Homo sapiens: one gene and its partners. Each later gene encodes a partner of the first gene's protein in a complex. Each region holds a gene or a part of one and is shown on either strand. Other genes may lie near its edges.

Region 1 (7,669 bases):
AAGTCTCGCTCTGTTGCCCAGGCTGGAGTGCAGTGGCGTGATCTTGGCTCACTGCAACCTCTGCCTCCCAGGTTCAAGTGATTTTCCTGCTTCAGCCTCCCAAGTAGCTGGGATTACAGGCACTCACCACCATGCCTGGCTAACTTTCTTTTGTATTTTTAGTAGAGGCGGGGTTTCACCATGTTGGCCAGGCTGGTCTCAAACTCCTGACCTCAGGTGATCCGCCCACCTTGGCCTTCCAAACTGCTGGGATTACAGGTGTGAGCCACTGCAGCCGGCCTTACTGTACTATTCTTATATAAGCTTTTCTGTAGGTTTGAAAATTTTCAAAATAAAAAGTAGGGAGGGGGTGAGCAAGGTGGCTTATCATCCTAGGACTTTGGGAGGTCGAAGCAGGAGGATCACTTGAGCCCAGAAGTCCCAGATGAGCCTGAACAACATAGTGAGACTCCATTTCTACAAAAACATAAATTAAAAAAATTAGCAATTAGCTAGGTGTGGTAGTGCGAGTCTGTAGTCCCAGGTACTCAGGAAGCTGAGGTGGGAAGATTGCTTGAGCCCAGAAGACTGAGGCTATAGTGACCCAAGATTGCGCCACTGAACTCCAGCCTGAGTGATCCAAAGAGCCTGTTTCTTTTTTCTTTTCCCTTTTTTTTTTTTGAGACGGAGTGTTGCTCTCTCGCCCAGGCTGGAGTGCAATGGTGCAGTCTCGGCTCACTGCAACCTCCGCCTCCTGGGTTCAAGTGATTCTCTTGCCTCAGCCTCCAGAGTAACTGGGATTACAGGGGTCCATCACCATGCCTGGCTAATGTTTATATTTTTAGTAGAGATGGGGTTTCACCATGTTGGCCAGGATGATCTCGAACTGCTGACCTCGTGAGTCGCCCACCTCGGCCTCCCAAAGTGCTGGGATTACAGGCGTGAGCCACTGCACCTGGCCCAAAGAGCCTGTTTCCAAAAAAAAAAAAAAAAAAAAACTTGGGGTGGGGTGGTGGGGGTACAAATAATGATATTTGATGCCTCAGCTGTTGGGGATAAGGGAGGTGAAGGATGCTCTGGAGCAAACAGTTGGAGTTTGAGTGTCTTTGGGAAAGACGCTTCCTGGCCTTCAGCTCCTGAGGAGCTGTGCTATCCCAGACCTTTTCTCCAGTTTCTTAACAATTCCAAGATCTCCTGATGTGCTTCCAGTAAATTCCCTTTTGTTTAAGTTAACCATAGTCAATTTCTGTCATTGCAACCAAGAATACTAAACATAAAGCTACCATGTATACAATATACACCACATAAGAAATTTATTCCACATCCTTTTAAGGTAATGAAATGAATATGTTTTGAAATTTTGGCAGGGTTGCTATGGTGTTCATGCCTACTAATTAAATGTGTCAAAAGTGAAACCCAGTGCACTTTCCAAAAAGTTTTCCATCTTTGCATATGAACTGAACACAGGGCTAATTTTTTTGCCCCAAACACAGGGCTAATTTTTATTGTGTGCTTCATGGTCAATCACCTCAAGTACACTTCAAGTATACTACACGAATAAAACTCATTGGAATTCAACTGCTGAGGGACACAGAGCAAGAACATGAACCACAGATCATACTTTGAATAAACTTGCCCCAGCTCTGATTAGGACTACATTTCACTTTCCATAAGAAAAAGTGAACTTGTATACAGGAAAATTAGGAGGTGGGAGAATGAGACCATGCCAGGGCATTATTCTTCAGAAAGGTTATTAAAGGAGAAAAGTAACATTTCAATGACCTGCTATGTACAGTGTATACAGTTGATGTCTCTGTTTTTTTTGTTTGTCTGTTTTGTTTTTTTGAGACAAAGTCTCACTTTTTCATCCAGGCTGGAGTGCAGTGGCATGATCATAGCTCATTGCAGCCTCGGCCTGCCAGGATCAAGTGATCCTCCTGCCTCAGCCTCCCAAGTAGCTGGGACCACAGGCACGTGTCACCACACGTGGCTAATTTTTAAAACTTATGTTAGAGACAGGGACTCCCTATGACATCTTGTTTAATCCTCACAACACCCCCTGACAAAGGTATTGTTTTCTCCACTCTACAGATGAGGAATCTGCAGGTGCAGGGGGGTTGAACCTAGATGGAGCCCAAAGCAATGTTTTTATCAAAATGCCATGTTGTCTGAGAGGGGATAATAAGGTATGAAGAGGCCTTCCGGGGAACTATGCTTCCCAGAATTACAGCAGAACATAAATGCCTAAGGCAAAACTTCCACTGATTTCCTCTTTCCCAGCTGAAACCATGGAGGGTATTGAAGACAAGAAAAAGAAGATTCCTGCTGTGCCAGAAACCCTTTAAAAATGTGAGGGAAGGCTGGGCACTGTGGTTCATGCCTGTAATCCCAGCACTTTGGGAGGCCGAGGCGGGTGGATCATGAGGTCAGGAGTTCGAGACCAGCCTGGCCAGCATGGTGAAACCCCGCCTCTACTAAAAATACAAAAATTAGCTGGGCATGGTGGTGCACGCCTGTAATCCCAGCTACTTGGGAGGCTGATGTACAAGAATCGCTTGAACCGGGGAGGCAGAGGTTTCAGTGAGCCAAGATTGCATCACTGCACTCCAGCCTGGGCAAAAGGGCAAGACTCTGTCTCAAAAAATAAAAATAAAACACATGAAGGAATTTCACAGAGCTAAAGGTCAAGTGCCTGAGAAAGAAGTTTGCCCATAAAATGCTTTGAAAAGAAAGGAGAAGGCCAGGCGCAGTGGCTCACGCCTGTAATCCCAGCACTTTGGGAGGCTGAGGCAGGTGAATCACCTGAGGTCAGGAGTTCAAGACCAGCCTGGACAACATGGTGAAACCCCATCTCTACCAAAAACGCAAAAATTAGCCGGGTGTGGTGGCAGACACCTGTAATCCCAGCTACTCAGGAGGCTGAGGCAGGAGAATCGCTTGAACCCAGGAGGCAGAGGTTGCAGTGAGCCGAGATGGCACCACTGCACTCCAGCCTGGGCAATGGAATGAGACTCCATCTCGAAAAAAAAGAAAAAGAAAAGCAAGGAGAAAGCTACATCTATGAAAAAGCTAGGCACTGTCAGATGTGGTGGCTAACCCCTGTAATCCCAGCACTTTGGGAGACCCAGGTAAGAGGATGGCTTGAGCCCAAGAGTTTGAGACCAGCCTGGGCAACAACATAAGACCCCATTTCTCCAAAATATTTTTAAAAAACGGGGGAGGAGAGGAGGTCAGGCATGGTGGTGCGTGCCTGTGGTCCCAGCAACCTCAGGTACTAGGGAGGCTGAGGTAGGAGGATTGCTGGAGCCCAGGAGGTCAAGGCTGCAGTGAGCCGTGACTGTGCCACTGCACGTAAGCCGGGACAATAGGACAAGATCCTGTCTCAAAAAAAAAAAAAACAAAGAAAGAAGGAAGGAAGGAAACATAATTTAAAAAATCAAGTCCAAAAAAAAGCAAGCAAGAAGTAAAAAAAAAAAGCTCAGCACTGTCACAAGAAATATATGGCAAGAAAAGCTGGCAATTTCTATATACCTGTGAAACCCAAATTGTCACTTGCCTTAAGGATCAAATGTATCAATGGTGTGAGCCCAAAACTCTGTTGCAACTTCTTCACTTTCCCCAGATCTTCAATGGCAGCTTTGTTAAACTCAACAAGGCTTCAGTTAACACGCTGAGGATTGTGGAACCATATATCACATGGAGTACCTGAACCTGAAATCAGTAAATGAACTGATCTACAAATTGGTTATGGCAAAATCAATAAACAAATTACCTTAACAGATAACGCTTTGATTGCTAGATTTCCTGATAAATATGGCATCATCTGACTGGAGAATCTGATTCATGAGATCTATGCTGTTGAAAAACTCAAGTTCCTGTGATCCTTCAAATTATCTTCTCCACGAGGGAGAATGAAGGACTACCTATTTTGTATTAATAAAAGGTATAAATGCCAGCAACAGAAAAGACTATATCAACAGGCTTATTAAACGGATAAACTGAAGCATCTAACATTATTTTTGTAATCTGGTCAGTTAATAGCCAGTCACTACTTTCAAACTGGAAAAAACAAAAACCAAAACAAAAATGTGACTGACTCCTTCAAGACCAAAATACACCACTTTTTGCCTAGACGGCACTTTGAAATAGAGGGCAATACCATCATATTTCACGCTTGCCTTTCTACTTTTTAATACAGGTGAACTTTTTCTCCTTAATAGGAAAGAACACCAAGTAAAGAACAAATAGCAGTTATGGAAAATAGTTGCAAAAACTGCAGGGGGCTACAGAACAAAGGACTGAGTGTAGGCAGAGAGATAGAGATCCCCGAGGTGTGGGGCAGAGCCCACGCATCTGAATTCCAAGAACAGGCGCTTTCTGACAGAGAATACCAGGAAATGACTTCACATTTTTCCAGACTATCAACATACTTCATTCTTCCCAGTAGGAGAACCCAGGGCCTGTTCCACGCCCACAGACTTTGGTCAGGCAAAGCGGCCGCAGGGCGTCTGGGCTAAACGCAACCAGGAACACATTGGCAAACTTTTGCGCCTGCGCCCACCGGGCGTGCACCTGTAGGCTGAAGTCGCGCATGCGCTAGATGGGAACGTTGTTTCTTCTCCCCTACCCCTTTTCTGTGGGTCTGTTTTAGGGACAGACTGCTTCCGGGTCGAAGGGCTTGCTTCCGGAGAGCGGGAAGGCTAAAACGCGGTAGCTAAACTGCAGCCAACTTTGGTTGTGTGTGGAAAAGGCTTTAGCCATGGACAGGTCAGTACTGATGGTGGCAGCTGAGCCCGAAGTCTTGCCCGTCTCGCCTGTTGGCGAAACGAAATAGGTGAAACTAGACTCCCAGAAGAAGCCAAGGAGGTCCCGGGTGCTTCCCCTAAGGCTCCTTCCCCATGCCGGGAAATTTGGCCACAAATGGGGAAAAAGCCGCTTGGCGTGCGTCGGGGTGGGGTACAGATCATAATAGTCCCTTACTTTCCCACTACGTTCTGCGATCTATTCGGCGCTTTGGGGCAGCAACACTGTTCGCTCCTGGGGTGGGCGGGGTAGGTAGCGCGGCGTTCGAAATGCTAAGTGACCAGCCTGAGATCACAAAGCCAGTCAGTGAAGATACTGGGATCTCAGCCCAGACTTTCTGATTACAAGTGCCAGCATCAGATTCTGAGTTCCCTCTATGATCTGGGTACTGTGCTAGCCGCCTACAACAAAGATCAGTTATTCAAGATCCTTCCCCTCGGGGAATTAGTTGTGTAATGGAGACAACCAAGCAGTGTAAAGTGGTAAGTGTTTGGGGGCGATTAAGTCTCCTTGTCACTGTAACTATCAGGAAGACCCCTCAAAGAAGGTAACTTTCTAGCTGGTCTTTGAATAATAAGAGTACATTATTCGTACTCCAAACATTGAGTACCTACTATGTGACTGCCATTGTTCTAAAGGCGTTGAATATATATTATTAGCTTATTTAATCTTCAGAACAAGAAAAATCCTATGAGATGGGTACTGTTATCCTTTTTTCATATATAACACTGAGACTAAAAGAGGTTAAGGAACTTGCTGAAAGTTCGGAAGCTAATAAATACAAGAACCAAATTGCCAACCTGCATCTGTGTGTCTCCAGCCTACCTGAGGCTCTTTGAGGAGTAAGTAGTTGTTGACCAGGTGCTCAAGGGGGCAAATGTAGGTCTTTGTAAAAGAAGCATATTCAGAGGTGCTAGGATATGAAAAAAAAGTACGTGTAGCTCAGTGGTCACATGCAGTATACGTTTAAAGTGATGTTTGTGGCTGAATAGAAGACTGAACCCCTAAACTGGGGTCACATTGTAAATATCATTTTAGGAAATTTTTACTTCTATAGACCAGAGAGCTATCTGAAGGTTTTTTTTTTTGTTTTTAATTTTAATTGTTAAACGTTTAAAATTGTTTCTATGTGGTTGTTTCCCATACTTTCCTGCTGAAGGAATATCTGAAGGTTTTAAGTGGAGGAAAAGCATATTAGATTCTTGTCTTAAACACAGGCCTTTTAGTCCGCACAATTTAGTTTCTAGACCTTTGAGTGAAACTGACAGGGAGTGTTGTGATGGGACAGGAGACCTCCTGGGTTGAAATAACTTGAAGGGTCATTTTGCTCCAATTTACCACAATTCTTTTACTTACCCTTCTATCTCACAAGCTCTGTTTGTTGTTGTTGTTGCAAGCTCTGTTTGTTGTTGTTGTTGTTTGTTTGTTTTTTAATAGTACCCATGGTTTAAAGCATTTTGGAGACTGCAGAAAATCTTTTAAGAGAGAATTCCTGCAGTTAGGTAACTCCTCAATCCAACAAGGGAAATAAGATTCACTTTCATGAAGCAATTATCTAAAACAGTGTTATAATATAGATTCCAAGTGTTGAAATAATTCCTTAGGAGAAAATAACATAGTGAGTACTAGAAAGTCAGAGAAGTCTTTGTGCAGGTAAGATTTGAGTAAGGCTTTGAAGAATAAGCAGGATTTGGAGCCAGGAGTGCGTTCTCAACAAAAGATCTAAGACTTGGCTACTAGAATGACTATACCTTAACTTACTCAGGGTCCTTTACTCCAACTGTGATGATAAAATTCTTTATAAATGCTATATTCTCGTTTCACTTATATAAGCTTGATTATACTACTTTAGGAGTGGCTTTGGAGAGATATCATCCCCTGTAATCCGGGAGGCAGAGGTGACACGGACTGCACGGAAACAGAGTGCTCAGAAAAGAGTTTTACGTATCCTTTGCGATTTAAGCATCATTATAAAAATTGTAACATGTTTGGAATCAGTGTTGTAGAATTTTCTTTTTATAAGAGTATTAAATGGTAGCTATAATAAAATCCTGTAGAAACTTTTTTTCACTCCACAGAGCTGTCATTTGGTAAATATAATGCAAAAATTTAATGAGATCGTATTTCCCTAAAAATAAAGATATTTCTTACTGCTGACAGCTTCTGCTGAGATTAGATTTCTTTTTATTATTTGAAAACTGACTAAAAACATTTAGTTCAGTGTGTAGTTATCTAAGACTGACATCTGATCATTTAAATGGCAGAAGCAATGAATTATTTACCCTTTGCATTGAAAAATGGTAGCCCTAAAATACTTGTTCTTGAAAAATGTATTCACATAATTTGTATAGTAAAAAGATGGTTAATTCTCATTTTAGTGATCTCTTTTCTACATGGAAAACTTTTCTTAACTCGTTGTACAGTTCAGGCATCTCAAGATGAAAATTTTGGTAATACTACACCAAGAAACCAGGTTATCCCTCGAACTCCTAGCTCATTTCGACAGCCTTGTAAGATTTTTTGCTTTTAAAGCATTTAATAATAACGGTAATTATAATAGCAACTAACATTTATTGTAACATAATTAGTATAGTATTTGGTTACGATATCAATAAGCACTAATAATAATGATTGCAGTTATTATTCGTTTGAACTCTTGCCATGTACAAGGTACTGTACTTTCCATAAACACACGGTAACTATGACATGGGTATTGTTGGCCCTGTTTTACCAAAACTGAAAGTGAGACTTAGAGAAGTTAACTAATATATACAATAAGTATGTAAATAGGCTGGATGCAGTGGCCCATGCCTATAATCTCAACACTTTGGGAGGCCAAGGTGGGTGGATCACTTAAGGCCAGGAGTTCAAGACTAGCTTGGCCAAC
Region 2 (7,025 bases), on another chromosome or scaffold:
TTTTTAAAAATGTTTTTCCTCTGGACAAAAGCAAGTAAGCTTTAAATAACTGAGTACATCAGGGATTGGCAAACCTTTTCTGTAAAGGGCCAAAAGTAACTGTTTTAGGCTTTGGCGGCCATGTAGTCTTTACTGCAACTACTCTATTTCACCAATGGTATCATGAAACATCCCTAGAAAATACATAAATAAATGCGTATGGTTGCCTTCGAACAAAACTTCATTTATAAAAACTGGTTTGAGATCAGTTTCACTGGAGGGCTGTACTTTGCCAATCCCTGGATCAGATGGTTGTTTTGATCTTTTTTTAAAGTCAGATTTATTGAGCTATAATTTATATAGAGTAAAACTTACCCTCTTTAGTTTATAATTCCACAAGTTGTTTTTTTTTTCTTTTTTTTTTTAAGATGGGGTGTCACTCTATCGCCCAGGCTGGAGTGCAGTGGTGCGATCTCAGCTCACTGCAACCTCCACCTCCCGGGTTCAAGAGTTCTTCTGCCTCAGCCTCCCAAGTAGCTGGGACAACAGGCATGTGCCACCATGCCTGACTAATTTTTATAGAGATGGTTTTGCCACGTTGGCCAGGCTGGTCTTGAACTCCTGATCTGAGGTTATGTGCCCACCTTGGCCTCCCAAAGTGCTGGGATTACAGACGTGAGCCACCGCACCTGGCCCTAATTCTACAAATTTTGACAGATACACAATTTAGTCATTTAACCGTAACAATCAATACAGAACAGTTTTATAACCCCCCAAATTCCCTTGTGCTTTCTGTAATCGACCCCTCCATCCTCTAGCCCCTGGAGATCACTGATGTGGTTTCTGTCCCTATATTTTGCCTTTTGCTTAATGTCATAGAAATGGAACATACAGTGTAAAGCCTTTTGAGTCTGGTTTCTGTCACTTAGCATAATACACTTCAAATTCATTCAGTATTTTTTTTTTTTTTTTTTACTACTGAATAGTGTTCTTTTGTATGGATATACCACAGTTTGTTTATCTATTCAGCACTTGGAAGACATTGGGTTGTTTTCAGTTTTAGGCAATTATGAATAAAGCCACTACAGTCATTTGTACACAGGTTTTTGTGTGAACACAGTTATTGGTTTTCTGTTTCTGTTTTTAAATTTTCTCTTGGATAGGTGTCCACGAATGGGATTGCTAAGTTATATGGAAGCATATGTTTAATTTTATAGGAAACTCCTAAGTTGTTTTTTAGAGAGGCTTTACATCTTCCTTTTTTATTGATTAGTGATGGGCTGGTGATTTTGGCAGCAGCATGGCACTCAGCAGACAATCCATGTCTCATCTATTACTCTCTGATAACAATAGAAGATAATGGTTGCCAAATGTCAGATGCAGTTACTGTAGAAGTCACTCAATATAATCCACCTTTTCAGGTAAGATTTATATTGGTTAAATTACAAAGCAATAATATGTTGAGTATTTTTCTAACCATTTCAGGGTCTTATTTATTTATTGAAAGAGTTTTGCTCTGTCACCCAGGCTGGAGTGCAGTGGCTTGATCTCAGCTCACTGCAACCTCTGTCTCCCCTTCCAGGTTCAAGTGGTTCTCCTGCCTCAGCCTCCCGAGTGGCTGGGACTGTAGGCATGTGCCACCATGCCCAGCTAATTTTTATATTTTTAGCAGAGACAGGGTTTCACCATGTTGGCCAGGCTGGTCTCAAACTCCTGACCTCAAGTGATTCCCCCAGCTTGGCCTCCCAAAATATTGGGATTACAGGTGTGAGCCACCTTGCGTGGCCCATTTCAGGGTCAAATTTCGTGACAGATTTCATCTGCAGGGCTTGGAAATATTTTAAAATAGCTTGTTTCTAGACATTGTTGCATTTTCTTTGCCATCTCAGGCTTGTTCTTTTGCTTAGTTTTGACTAAAGAAAAATGAGAATGGAAGCAACTAGCAGAAAGCAGTTTGTTTCTTCTGCTCTAGATCTTTGGAGGGATTGTCATGTCTGTATTTAGGTAGAAAGAAGGTATTGATTAATTCCAGGGTGAAAGTAAGGAAGAAACCAAGCTGGGCATGATGAGTACATGCCTCTAGTCCCAGCTACTCAACAGGCCGAGGCAGGAAGATCACTTGAGCCCAGGAGTTTGAGGCTGTTGTGTACCATATTCACACCTGTGAATAACCACTGCATTCCAGCTTAGGCAACATAATGAGACTCCATCCTAAAAAAAGAAGAAAAAGAAAAAGGAAGGAAGAAAACTGGTAGGAATTAGGGTTTGGTTTAGAGCCTTGTATACTATAGAAAAATCCTCCTTTTTACCCAAAGGAAGATTATATTTGTATTCAGCAGTGTTCTGTAGTCATCAAAGTTCTTGTAAATGACTGGAAGACAGGCTTTCCAATTTTAAGTTCATTAATAGCAATTAAACATGTTTAATAACTGGTATTCATGAGGAAGAACCTGAACATCTATAAATTCATTTTATTTACTCTTACATAGTATCTAATTCTGTTAAATCCTTGTTTGTTTATTTTTTGAAGAGATAAAGTCTTGCTGTGTTGCTTGGACTGGAGTGCAGTGATATTCACAGGTCCATCAGAGTGCACGGTAGCCTCCAACTCCTGGTCTCAAGCAGTCCTCTCAGGTAGCTGGGATTACAGGTGTGCACCACCGTTCCTGGCTTAAATTCTTACTTTTTTTTTTTTTTTGATCCTTACTCTTAACATGACTTGTTTAATTGAATCCTGTAAGAAAATCTTTTGATTTGTTCTTTTATGCCAAACAGAAATAAACTTTATCATGTGTTCTGATTATGCAGTGTGGAAAACATGCTCAGTGTTAGAAAAAATTTCAGCCAGGGCAGAAGACTATAAAGAGAATTTGAGGATTAAAAAACAATTCTAGGACCTCGCATTTAATATTTCTGTAAAATTACTTCTTTAATAACAGCTTATCATTTTTAGCATATTCTAATTTTATTTAATGAGATTTATTTTTATTTCTCCCTCTGATTTTATATGTAAACAAATCAACTAAGTTTTCTTGTCATTAATATCTTGGCAGTAAGGTAAGAACAAAAATGTTTGTTTATCAGGGAATATTTATAAAAAATTGCCAATTCTTAATATAACGAATTTTAGTGCTTTCATTTTCTCCTTTGAATTTATCATAGGCTTCTAGTTATAGTCATCATCATGGAAATGTTTTCCAAATTTGTTAATTTTGGAAATTAACAATTTAGGCCAGGTGCGGTGGCTCACGCCTGTAATCCCAGCACTTTGGGAGGCTGAGGTGGGTGGATCACCTGAGGTCAGGAGTTCAAGACCAGCCTGGCCAACATGGTGAAACCCCATCTCTACTAAAGATACAAAAAAATTAGCCGGGCATGGTAGCATGCACCTGTAATCCCAGCTACTTAGGAGGCTGAGGCAGGAGAATTGTTTGAGCCTGGGAAGCAGAGGTTGCAGAGAGCCAAGATTGCACCACTACCCTCCAGCCTGGGCAACAGAGTGGGACTCTGTCTCAAAAAAAAAAAAAAAAAAAAAAATTAAAAAAGCAAATTATAAGCAAGTCAACAAAATATATGTCTAATTGATGTTTATAAACTTACTCTGTCATGTTTTGTTAATCATCTCATGGGTAGTGTTCAGATTTTTACAAAGAGAATTGGTGAAATATTTTTATGAAATAATGTACAAAAATGAATTTAAAAAATCATACAAATATTTTTGTTTTACTTCTTGTTAAATGTAATCTTAAATTTAACTTTCAGTCTGAAGACCTGATTTTGTGTCAGTTGACGGTCCCAAACTTTTCAAACCAGACTGCCTATCTGTATAACGAAAGTGCTGTCTATGTGTGCTCCACAGGAACTGGGAAATTTTCTCTTCCCCAGGAGAAAATTGTCTTTAATGCACAAGGTACAGTAGCAGTTTTAGAAAGCATGATTGGTGAGCTCATTAGTCATTCTGAGTGCTTTTTTTCTCTTTCCCTGAATGTCACTTCAAGCATGCTGCTTTCAAATGTTTCTGAGACATTTCATACCACAACTACAGCAGCTGAAGCCATAACCCTACTAAGAAACCAAAAGGGTACTAGAATTTCCAAACTATTATATTTACAGACAAAGATAGTAACATTTGTTCCAGGAGAAGATGCCAAGAAGCAAAAAACTATTGCCAAGAGAAGTAATTGCTTATTCCTAGTTAGTAAAAGTGACATATTCTGAGTTGATGCTTTAACTTTTCCACACCCCTAGATAAGAAGAGCTTCAGGTGCTGGACTTATGCAGGGGGGCTGGTCAGGATTGAAGAAGAACCAAGCAGATACTTAGCTGAAGGGGTTGGGCAGAGGACAGAGTGCAGGTAGGCAACAGCATGGAACCCAGGTTTTCTAGTCCCAGCACAAGAACCTTGACAGAGGGTGGGTAGGATGTTACTAAGGTGCCAGGTAGGCTTAGACCTTTTTTTTTTTTTTTTTTTTCCAGTCCCCATTGACTGATGTGGTAAGTTAAAGTCAGAATTAAGAGAACTCCACAGGATTGAAAAAGCTCTTCTTCTGAGTTTTGCAGAAGGAATAATTTTCTTTTTTGGCTTACTAGACTGACTGCTGTCTGGCAAGGCTAGTTTTTATTGTCCTTAAAGCTGAAAGACACAGAGCCTGCTTCTTCAGATAGCAACCGGTTCTTAGCATTTGATTCTGGGATGTAAAGGATGAGTTCGAAGTAGGACTAATGTTGTAAAGGAAAAAATGTGCTTAATATATCATCAAGATGATTTTCTGCTTAGGGTGGTAGCTTTTACATAGCATTTTGTTGTTATTGTTAGATGTATTTGACTCTGTTTTCCTTTCTTTTAGGAGATAGTGTTTTAGGTGCTGGTGCCTGTGGTGGTGTTCCTATCATTTTTTCTAGAAACAGTGGACTGGTGTCTATTACTTCAAGGGAAAATGTGTCTATATTGGCAGAAGACTTGGAAGGGTCTTTAGCATCTTCAGTTGCTGGACCAAACAGTGAGGTAATGTGATTCGATAAGAATTTGAAGTTTTTATGTTATTTATTTTTTAGAGATAGTGTCTCACGCTGTCACCCAGGCTAGAGTGCAGTGGCACAGTCGTAGTTCATTGCAGCCCCAAACTCCTGGCCTCAAGCAATCCTCCTGCCTCAGACTTCCCAGTAGGTGCCTGGCTAATTTTTTGTTTTTTGGTTTGGTTTGGTTTTTGAGACAGAGTCTCACTCTGTTGCCCAGGCTAGAGTGCAGTGGCATAATCATAGCTCACTGCAGCCTCACCTCAACCTCCCGGGATCAAGCAGTCCTCCCCTCTTAACTTCCTAAATAGCTGGGACTACAGACATGCGCCATCTCACCTGGCTAATTTTTTATTTTTTGTAGAGACAGGATCTCCTTATGTTGCCTAGGCTGGTCTCAAACTCCTGGGCTCAAGAATCCTCCCGCCTCGGCCTCCCAAAGTGCTGGGATTACTGGCGTGGAGCCACCATGCCCAGCCTAATTTTTAGTTTTATCAGATTATTTTATACAAATGGTCTCAAAACTGAGACAGTTTTCAAAGACGTAATGATGCAGACATTAGTTCTTTTTATCTTCCTCATCCCTTCTGTCCTCTTTGCCTGGAGCAACTACATTTAAGCCTTTTAGTGATTTATTCTGGTATTTTTCTCCATATATCTAAGTAATGTACATATATTCCTGTCTCCTGATGCATCTGTTGATTTTCTACTACAGAAAATGAGGTTTTGGGTTACCTTATACTCCTTCCTCTGCCTTTATCATTCTAACATAAATTTTTTTCATTGTAATGACAATGTAAATATTGTTTATGGTTTGCTGATCCCAAATACTGATTACATGTCCTTTATTATAGAACTTTGTGTGACTCTTGGAGTGTATAATGACCTCGTTTTGTATTTTCTCACTTTCCTTTCATATGTGACTTAATCTTTTTACACACTCCAGGAGTTCTGTAGAGTGCCCCTCAATGTAGTTTTTCCCAAAGTCAAGTCTCCAGAAACCTTCCATCTGCACAGCTGTCATCCCAGAACTTCCCTTTTCTATTGTCCTCAAATCCTCAGGACCTGTCCTCTGCACCATGCATAGGTGGCCTCATCTCCTGTCAGCGGGGCCATTTCCCATTCCTTCTGCTTTCTATCTTCCTTTGTTGTAGTTAGTATCACAGATATTTCCAAGGAGCTTGTATTTCTGTTTCTTTTTATTCTGGGATGATTTTTTGAGAGGAATAGCCAGGTAAAAATTACCAATTTTATTCTGTTGTCTTGAAACCTGAAATATCCTATCCATAAGATTTTTATCATTCTTTTACAGAAGACTAAAAATAATTAATACTGTTTGGGGTAATTTCCATTTGAATAGTGTATGAAATATATAGACTACCTCTGTAATTCAAATTAAAGTGATTAAGTGTAGTTTTAAAGGAAAGAAACAATTTTTAACTTTTTTTTCTTTTCACAAAAGGGATTAATACCTTGCATTTTGTATTTTGTAATTATACAAAATTATACAAAGTACAAAATACCTTGTATTTTGTAATTAATACGATTACAAAAAAGGATTAATATCTATTTTGTAATTGTATGGTTATTATAATACTGTTATACATTCTGAAGCAATTTTATAGTATTCCATTTCTTTAAAATTTTTCTAAACCGTTGTTTAAATTTGTAATCAACCATTATGCTTAGGTAGTATACACTGTGATGAGTCGTGTAAGAGCAAACCTATAAAAAGATTCTGTTAATTATGATGAAATGTCCAAATTATTTTACTTACAACATAATCCCTGAATTACCTGTACCTTTTCTGTATGACTTTGGTTGATCATTTGATGCTATTTATAGTGTTTCAATAAGTATATGAATAATTGGTATGGACCAAGCTTGTCCAACCCACAACCCATGGGCTGCATGCGGCCCAGGATGGCTTTGAATGCAGCCCAACACAAATTCGTAAACTTGCTTGAAACATAAATTTTTTTTTTTTTAACTCATCAGCTATCATTAATGTTAGTGTATTTTATGTGTGG
Region 3 (7,198 bases), on another chromosome or scaffold:
TAGGAAGCTCCAGGTATGAAATAAGGTCCCAAACCAAGATAGTCAATGGTTACAAATGGAACAGACATTATAAAGGAAGATCAAATCTGGGTAACCAAAAAAAAAAAAAAACAAAAAAAACAGTGGGAAAAGAGAGCCAAAGAGGACTGCAAGATTGAGAAAGCTAGACTTAGCAGGCCTATTAACTGCTTTTATACATTCTATCCTGTCACTGCATAGTTCCTATCCCTACTTGGAATTCTAATGCTTAAAAATCCCTTACGAAATTACAAAAATTAAAACTACCAAATAAACACTTACATTCACCTATCCATTAAGGCCATTAAAAATCTCAAAATACTATCTTTCCCACTGTGCTGAAAGTAAGTCCCATTCTACCCTAAACCCAAATCTCTCCTTATACCCTGACAAATAATAATTTACAAATCTCTCCCTACACTTTGACATTCTAGGTCTTAAAGCTGACATTTTTACCTATTAGCATGTGTCAACATCAAACAGCACTAAAGTTGTTTGCACCAGAGAAAGTGGATTGAGACTATGTTACTAACAAATCCAAATTATAAGATTAAAAGACAACACTCCCACAGTCTGAAAACAGTATGAGTCACCAAGAAACAAAAACAAAAACAAAAAACAGTGAAAAGAAGATGGTAAGAATAAATTCCAGTTTGAAATCCTTTAATTATGACAGTGAAAAATAAGCACCTTCCCTGGGAATGTATTTTTACATTTAAAATACTATTCGTTTTCTCATGTGAAAAAGATTTTCTAAAAACTATGTTAGGAGTTCTCTTCAGTTTTATTACAGCATCTAACTATGAATGCTTAAAATGCCTTCATAGTTCCAAAACCAATTTAGTTAAAATAATTATTTAGAAATGTAATGTAAAGCAACTGTAAAAATGCAAATCATTTTAACACAGAAACAAATATTTTAAAGTATACCATTACCTTTAATTCATGATAATCTATTGCTTCATCTTTGTCTGTATCAAATAGTTCAAAAGCATCTTTAATTTCTTGTTTCTGTTCCTCAGACAGTTCTCTTCTTTTTTTCCTCTTTGTTTTGTCCACTACAAGCTCACTTCTATGAAATGGAAAGAAAAAGCCCTTAGTCCACTTTAATTCTCTTTACTAACAGAAATTAGCCAATAATTACCTTCTAAATTTCAAAAAAGAAAGTACTTTGGAGAAAGATAGGGAAACTTTCCCTTTATGAGTCAATGACCTGTTTATTCCATAGTCTAAATTGCTATAAATCTGAACTTCGCAAAACTAAAGAGTGTTACAGATTATTAAAAGAAATGAGGACCAAACTTTTCTTTTTCCCAGCTTTTTATTTATTCCCACTAATGTTACTGTGGAAGAAACAAGAACTGTGAATAAGCAACACTACTTTTATGTCTGAAACTCCAACCAACTCCAACCAAAAAAACAAAAACACGTTATCCTACAAGAATGTTAAAGAATTTAAAAAAAATCTCCAAATGAAACCAAAATTCATAACTGACAATCACTATATATCGGTTTACTGTTGATAGTTCTGATAATTATGTTCATAAAATTACAAAAAAAAAGTGAATTAACTTATACAGTATTTTAGCACTGTTGGTTCAAAATGTTTTTAGATTACACGTTTTTAACAGTTTGGCAATTTATGTGTCATTTCCTCCATTGATATTAACAAACCATCGAAAATATTAATGAGTCTAAACATATGACAAATATTAGATGCCAATATACAATGTTTGTGCTTCATTCTATATAAAAATGTGATGAGTCTTGTCTCATTTAACATGTAAACCGGAGGTTAACTTCTCATAAACTCTGGAAACGCTTAAAGAAAAAAAGCAAAAATTATTTTAAAGCCAGAAATGTTTTCCTTAAGAGCTGCCCATCTAAATGTGCTCCAAATTTTCAAATGGAGCCGCAACACTGGAATAACGAGTTTTGAAACACAATCCGGTAACACATTAACATGTCAAACCAGTTGACTGTACTTAAAACACCTATCTAGTTGCATTTGAAAGTCGTTTTGGTCTCTGAAAGCTCCAAAAAAAAAAAAAAAAAGCTAGGAAGTGACTAGTAGGTGCAGTATAACAAAGCTGAGGAAGATCTTCCTTTCATGAGACCTGACTTGACACAAACTTGGGTATTCCTGGGGTCAGTCTTTTCCTTCCTGAGACTTTTGGAGGCCAAGTCCAGAACCGACCCACCCCTGACCCCATCCAAGGGTACCATGATTATCCCTTAGCAGAACATGGAATATTTTCGGAGTGTCGTAAGTGTATGGATAGTTTTACGGTACAACGTCTACATAGTGGGAGAGGGCAACAGAGGGTTAGAGGTTAGAACTGAAAGGTAAAAAAATGCAAGAAATTTAGGAAATCCAAGAGACAGACTGCCAATTAAAGTCACTAAAATGGGTCTCCAATTACACCGTAAAGCAGGGCCCTGGGAGAAGAGGAAAGAGTTTTTGTTATTTCCAAAATTTATAGGTGGGTGATTGCATTAGCAGCGGAGCAGCCGAGGTGGGGCCCTGACCAGGCACACGGATGAATGAAGGGATGTCCGCGACCTGATCTGAGAAACAAGAGTAGAAGCCTCGCGATATTTCATTCCCACCTCGCTCGCAACTAAGCCCAACCTTCTGGCAGTCCAAAGCCCTACGCGCTGACAGAAATAACCTCCTTAGCAGAAATGCACTGGTCTCGTTCCCTGCAGGGCATCAGAGCCCAGAGGGTGAGTGATCCGGGCAGGCTGCCCTAGGCTCCTTTCCCGCGTCCCAAACTACATCCCCTGCCTCGCCTCGGCCCCAAACGTCCTCCCTTCCACACACACCCTCCCTGGGCCCCGCTCCGGGGTGTGGAGAGCACTGCCGCCTCCTTATTACCGACCTCAGAGCTAAACTCATTATCTCTTCGCACAGAGACGTTCCTCTCAAGAACGATTTTAACCCCCTACCCAAGGCAGCAAGACGCCCACAGCCGTTCAACAGACACGAACGACCTCAGCGGCCTCAGGGACCTCCCACAACATAGACACTTTTGAGCTGGATTGGTTGAAATGTCGCTATGGTTCTGCCTATTAGGGGGCGGAAGCTTTACCAGTTCTATTTTCATTGGGTAGGTTTTACGTCAATCAAGGAAAAAAAAATTTTTTTTCTGTGCCCCGCCCACCTCCTAACGCCCCCCCGCCCCCCCAATCTAGGGCCGCTCTCGCCCTTCGGATTGGCTCGATGCGTTTTTCCCCGAATCCTTTGCGGGTCCGGCCTCCGATCCCTGTGTGGCTGTTTGGCGGGTGGGCGCTGTGTTCCTCTCTCGTAAAGCCGTGCGGTCTGTGGGCCGCCATTCAGAAACTGGATGGACAGCTTCGGCGGTGGGAAGGGAAGGGACATGCTGCAGGCCACCCTCCGGCTAGAAGGAGGGAGTACTTGAGGAACAAGGTCTGCGAAAATTGGCTGTGCTCTGTTCTAAAACTTGGAATGGCCTCAGTACCTGGGGAATGTGTTTAAAATGCAGACTTAAATGTCCGTTTCTCCATTCTAATTTCAGTAGGTATGAATCTGCGTTTTTACTCCTCACAAGCCTTCCAAGTGATTCTGAGGCAGGTGCTGTGGCTGTACTTGGATTATCACAGGGTTAGATTATCAGGCTATTTATGATTTAGCTGTATCTAAACCACCTTTCCCTCTCTTTCCTCCTTTGAACTGTTTGAAACGGATTTGTTCCCTTCTGTCTCTTATTTTTCAGTGCTGTAAGCTGTTAACACACATGAGACTGTCTTCACTACCAAACCAAGTCTCCTAAAGCTCACTTGAATGTCTGCTTATTCGTGTCTCTTACTAGGTTCAATTTCTTGGAGGCCGTGATTATATCTATTTAACGCTTTTCCTTGTACCTAATAAAATGTCTGGTGCGTAGGTGCTCGGTAAATTGAGTGGAATCTTTTGAAAATCCACAAAATACTGAGCTAAACAGCAAATCTCATAAACGTGAATAAAATAGCCTGAGGATGGGAGTTGAAGGCGGAGAATATATAAACATTATATGTTTAAGGGATGTATATAAAATTTTAGAGAAGGGAGAGAACACAAGATATGCTTCTTAAAGGAGGTGACATAAACGTTAGACCTAGAAGGATGGGCTAAATTTGCACAAGGAAAGATAGTATGATAGAATAAGCTAAAAATTAGCTAAGGGATAGCACCCCTAAAAAACAAAAGTGGAACTTTTATTTTGTTCGTATTTTAAATTTTAAAGTACCTTTATAAATCACCTTTGAGTCTAAAAGGAAAGAGAAATTGTAGTTACTAGAACATAATGATATTGAAAAAAACTATATGTTAAAATTTTAAGATACAGACCAAGTTATAGGAGAACATTATTTTAAATAAGAAAGAATAAAAATAGGCCAAGCATTTATTTGAAGATGTTAGAAACGAAGAACAAATTGTATAATTGAAATTAGGAAGAGGAAATTAGTAAAGATAAAGTTTGAGAACAGTGTTTTAAAAGGAAATTGGTAAAATTGATAAAGTACTCATAATCTAGTATAAAGCTGGTTTTTGGCAATACCAGTGAAATTCAAAGACTTATAGGAAGTGTAACAAGAAAAGGAATAGTGCCACTAGTAAGGTTGGTAATTTAATAAAAGGGAGGTTTAAAAATTATTAAAATATTTTATACAATTTTATACCGCCAATAAATATTAATAGAAAATGAAATAGTCACTTTTCAAGGAAAACATAACTCAAAAAAGGTGGAAAACTGAATTAAGTCAATAACTACAGACAGGACTGGAACAAAGATGCCAAAGTTCTGTACTCACAAATAAAAAGCCTCCAGCCCACTCAGATTTATGATTAAAAATCATAAGAGCTAAATCTTGTGCTTTAAACTCAAGTCATAGAAAATGATGGAGAGCTTCTTAGCTTAATTTTTGAAGCTGCCATAATCTTTCACATCCTAAAAGAACATTTAAAGTCACTCAGTGTAAGCTCAGTGATGATGAAGGCTATGCATGTTTCTCACCATTGTATCCCCAGTGCCTGACTCATGTTTGATGTTCATTTGTGAACTTAAGTGCAAAATTCCTAGATGTTAGCAAAGTCAGTTTGATACTGTCTTAAAGGAACATTTCTCTATAACTAAATTGAGTTTTTTTTTGTTAAGTGCAAAGATAATTCAAAATATAAATCTGTGTTAAATAATTATAATGTTAGGTTAAGGAAATCATCTCAGTGTCAAAAAGGCACTGAATAATAGGTAACACCTTTTCTATTAGGATATAAAGTGGGTTTAGAAAATACTTTTTTAAATATGATCGGCAGAATACTTAAACACCAGTGTTTCTCAAACCTCATTCCTGAAACACTAGGATTTTGTGAGATGCTTTTGGTCTCAGAGTGCGTTTTATAAGCAAATAATTTGGGCAAACAGATTTTAAAAGGTTTTCAATAGGGTGTCCTTTTAAGAGAGTGACAGGGAATTTACACGCATCACTTTTATTATATTTAATTAGTGAGAACTAGTGACAACCACTTCTTGCTTCACGGGAGGTTGAGGCAAGAAATCTCTAGATGGAAAACTGCTCTGCTGAAACTTGGGGTCTAATCATCTATTACTAAAGATAAGACAGGTGGTTACACTAATTATATTTTAAACCTAAATTTGATGCAATCAAAATTCTCATATTTTTCTTGAATTGAACAAAGGTATTCCAAAGACCATCTCAACAACAATTCTATAAAAATAACTTACTAAACTGTGAAAAAGAATAATAATACAAAAATTGCTGTATGGGACACTAAAATGTATTTGGTACAATGGTAATCAGACCAGAAATTCCAGAGACAGCCAAATGTAAATAAAAATGTCTGCTTTGAAAAGGTAGTGACATAAATATTTGTTTAGTCTGCCTCCTAAAGCCTTAATAAATCAAGAGTTCCTCTATCACCCACGCTGGAGTGCAGTGGCATAACTCACTGTAACCTCAAACTCCTGGGCTCAAAGGATCCTCCCGCCTCAGCTCCTGAAAAGTTAGGACTACAGAAGCATGCCACCATGCTCAGCTAATTTTTTTTAAATTTTACACTGTGTTGCTGTGTTGCCCAGGCTGGTCTAGAACTCCTGGTCTCAAGTGACCCTCCAGCCTCAGGCTCCCAGAGTGTTGAGATTACAGGAATTAGCTCCCATGCCTAGCCAATAAATTAATTTCTAAAGCTGAAGTGACCTGGAGAGGGACCATCAGCAGACTAGGTATTTAAAAAATTATTGGAAAGATCAAAAGAAATATGGAAACTTGTTGACAAATGAAACAGATCACTGAAGTGGCATCCTATAATTTTCCAGAGATGACTTATGTTTCACAGAGAGTTGATCTACCTAGCAAAGTCCCAGAGAGACTCCAGGAATAGAGTTCCCTTGTACAGTAGAAGGTGGAAATGAGAAGGGGGCTAAAAACAAAATGTCAATTTAAAACCTCTTTAGGAAACCACTGTACTTCAGTTCCTCCAGATTCCTCTCCCCAGTGTTTTGTCTCTTTACATCTATCTAGAACTCCACTCTTTTTTTTTTCCTTTTTTTAGAGACGGGGGTTCTCTCTGTTGCCCAGGCTGGAGGGCAATGACATGGCCTTAGATCATAGCTCACTGCAACCTCAACCTCCTGGGCTCAAGCAACCTCCCACCTTGCGCCTTGGCCTCCTGAAGTGCTGGGATTACAAACGTGAGCTACGGCACGTGGCCTGAGTCTTTAAAATGAATGAAGAATGAAAAACCATCAGAGATATGAAAATCAACAGCATGAAAGATAAAACTAAAAACCATTTCAGGAAGACTCTGAGTCAGCTAAGGAACCAAAATAAAATAATAAGAAATTAATAATAATAAGCTGCCTAAGAAGTACTCAAGAAAATATTAGAGAACAGAATACTCTGAAAAAGGAGCATTGGAGAATAAGAAAAGACTGTTGAAAATAAACATGAATGTAAAAATTAAACTGGCAAGATGATTTAATTGAAAAAATATCACAAAACTTGCAGTATTCAAACAAAAACATGGAGAATTTTGAGAAAAAAATGGAGGACTAATTCATTATTTGACTAATAAGAATTTCTGAAAGAGAGAACAAGAGGAGGAGGAGAAAAATATCACACATTGAAAAGATACTTCGAGGAACTGAAGATAAATACA

Evidence for each region. Proteins that work in one complex are often made in the same cells at the same time.
Region 2: the proteins of NUP107 (region 1) and NUP133 are in contact, whole or in part, in a crystal structure (PDB 3CQG), measured with the Homo sapiens proteins. Residues at the interface, in NP_065134.1 of Homo sapiens: Leu875, Gln876, Ala878, Asp879, Val881, Ser882, Ser883, Glu884, Tyr889, Lys894, Leu897, Arg898, Leu900, Leu901, Gln902, Arg905, Ser908, Leu909, Leu912, Asp917, Pro918, Leu919, Tyr921; in NP_060700.2 of Homo sapiens: Trp937, Leu938, Ile941, Asn942, Gln944, Leu946, Tyr963, Ala965, Lys966, Lys968, Thr969, Leu970, Gly972, Leu973, Lys975, Leu976, Ala977, Leu979, Ala980, Ser981, Asp982, Ile992, Glu999.
Region 3: NUP107 (region 1) and CETN3 share a complex: the UniProt entries of both Homo sapiens proteins name them as parts of the nuclear pore complex.

Annotation. Positions count from the first base shown.
Region 1 is NC_000012.12:68,682,328-68,689,996, forward strand, and holds the start of NUP107 (nuclear pore complex protein Nup107), read left to right. Parts: upstream 1-4,650; 5' UTR 4,651-4,738; coding exon 4,739-4,746; intron 4,747-6,634; coding exon 6,635-6,726; intron 6,727-7,205; coding exon 7,206-7,292; intron 7,293-7,669. UniProt on the Homo sapiens protein: Plays a role in the nuclear pore complex (NPC) assembly and/or maintenance. Required for the assembly of peripheral proteins into the NPC. May anchor NUP62 to the NPC. Involved in nephrogenesis.
Region 2 is NC_000001.11:229,484,330-229,491,354, reverse strand, and holds part of NUP133 (nuclear pore complex protein Nup133), read left to right. Parts: intron 1-1,252; coding exon 1,253-1,400; intron 1,401-3,741; coding exon 3,742-3,889; intron 3,890-4,826; coding exon 4,827-4,984; intron 4,985-7,025. UniProt on the Homo sapiens protein: Involved in poly(A)+ RNA transport. Involved in nephrogenesis.
Region 3 is NC_000005.10:90,406,745-90,413,942, forward strand, and holds the start of CETN3 (centrin-3), read right to left. Parts: upstream 3,013-7,198; 5' UTR 2,918-3,012; coding exon 2,901-2,917; intron 1,091-2,900; coding exon 955-1,090; intron 1-954. UniProt on the Homo sapiens protein: Plays a fundamental role in microtubule-organizing center structure and function. As a component of the TREX-2 complex, involved in the export of mRNAs to the cytoplasm through the nuclear pores.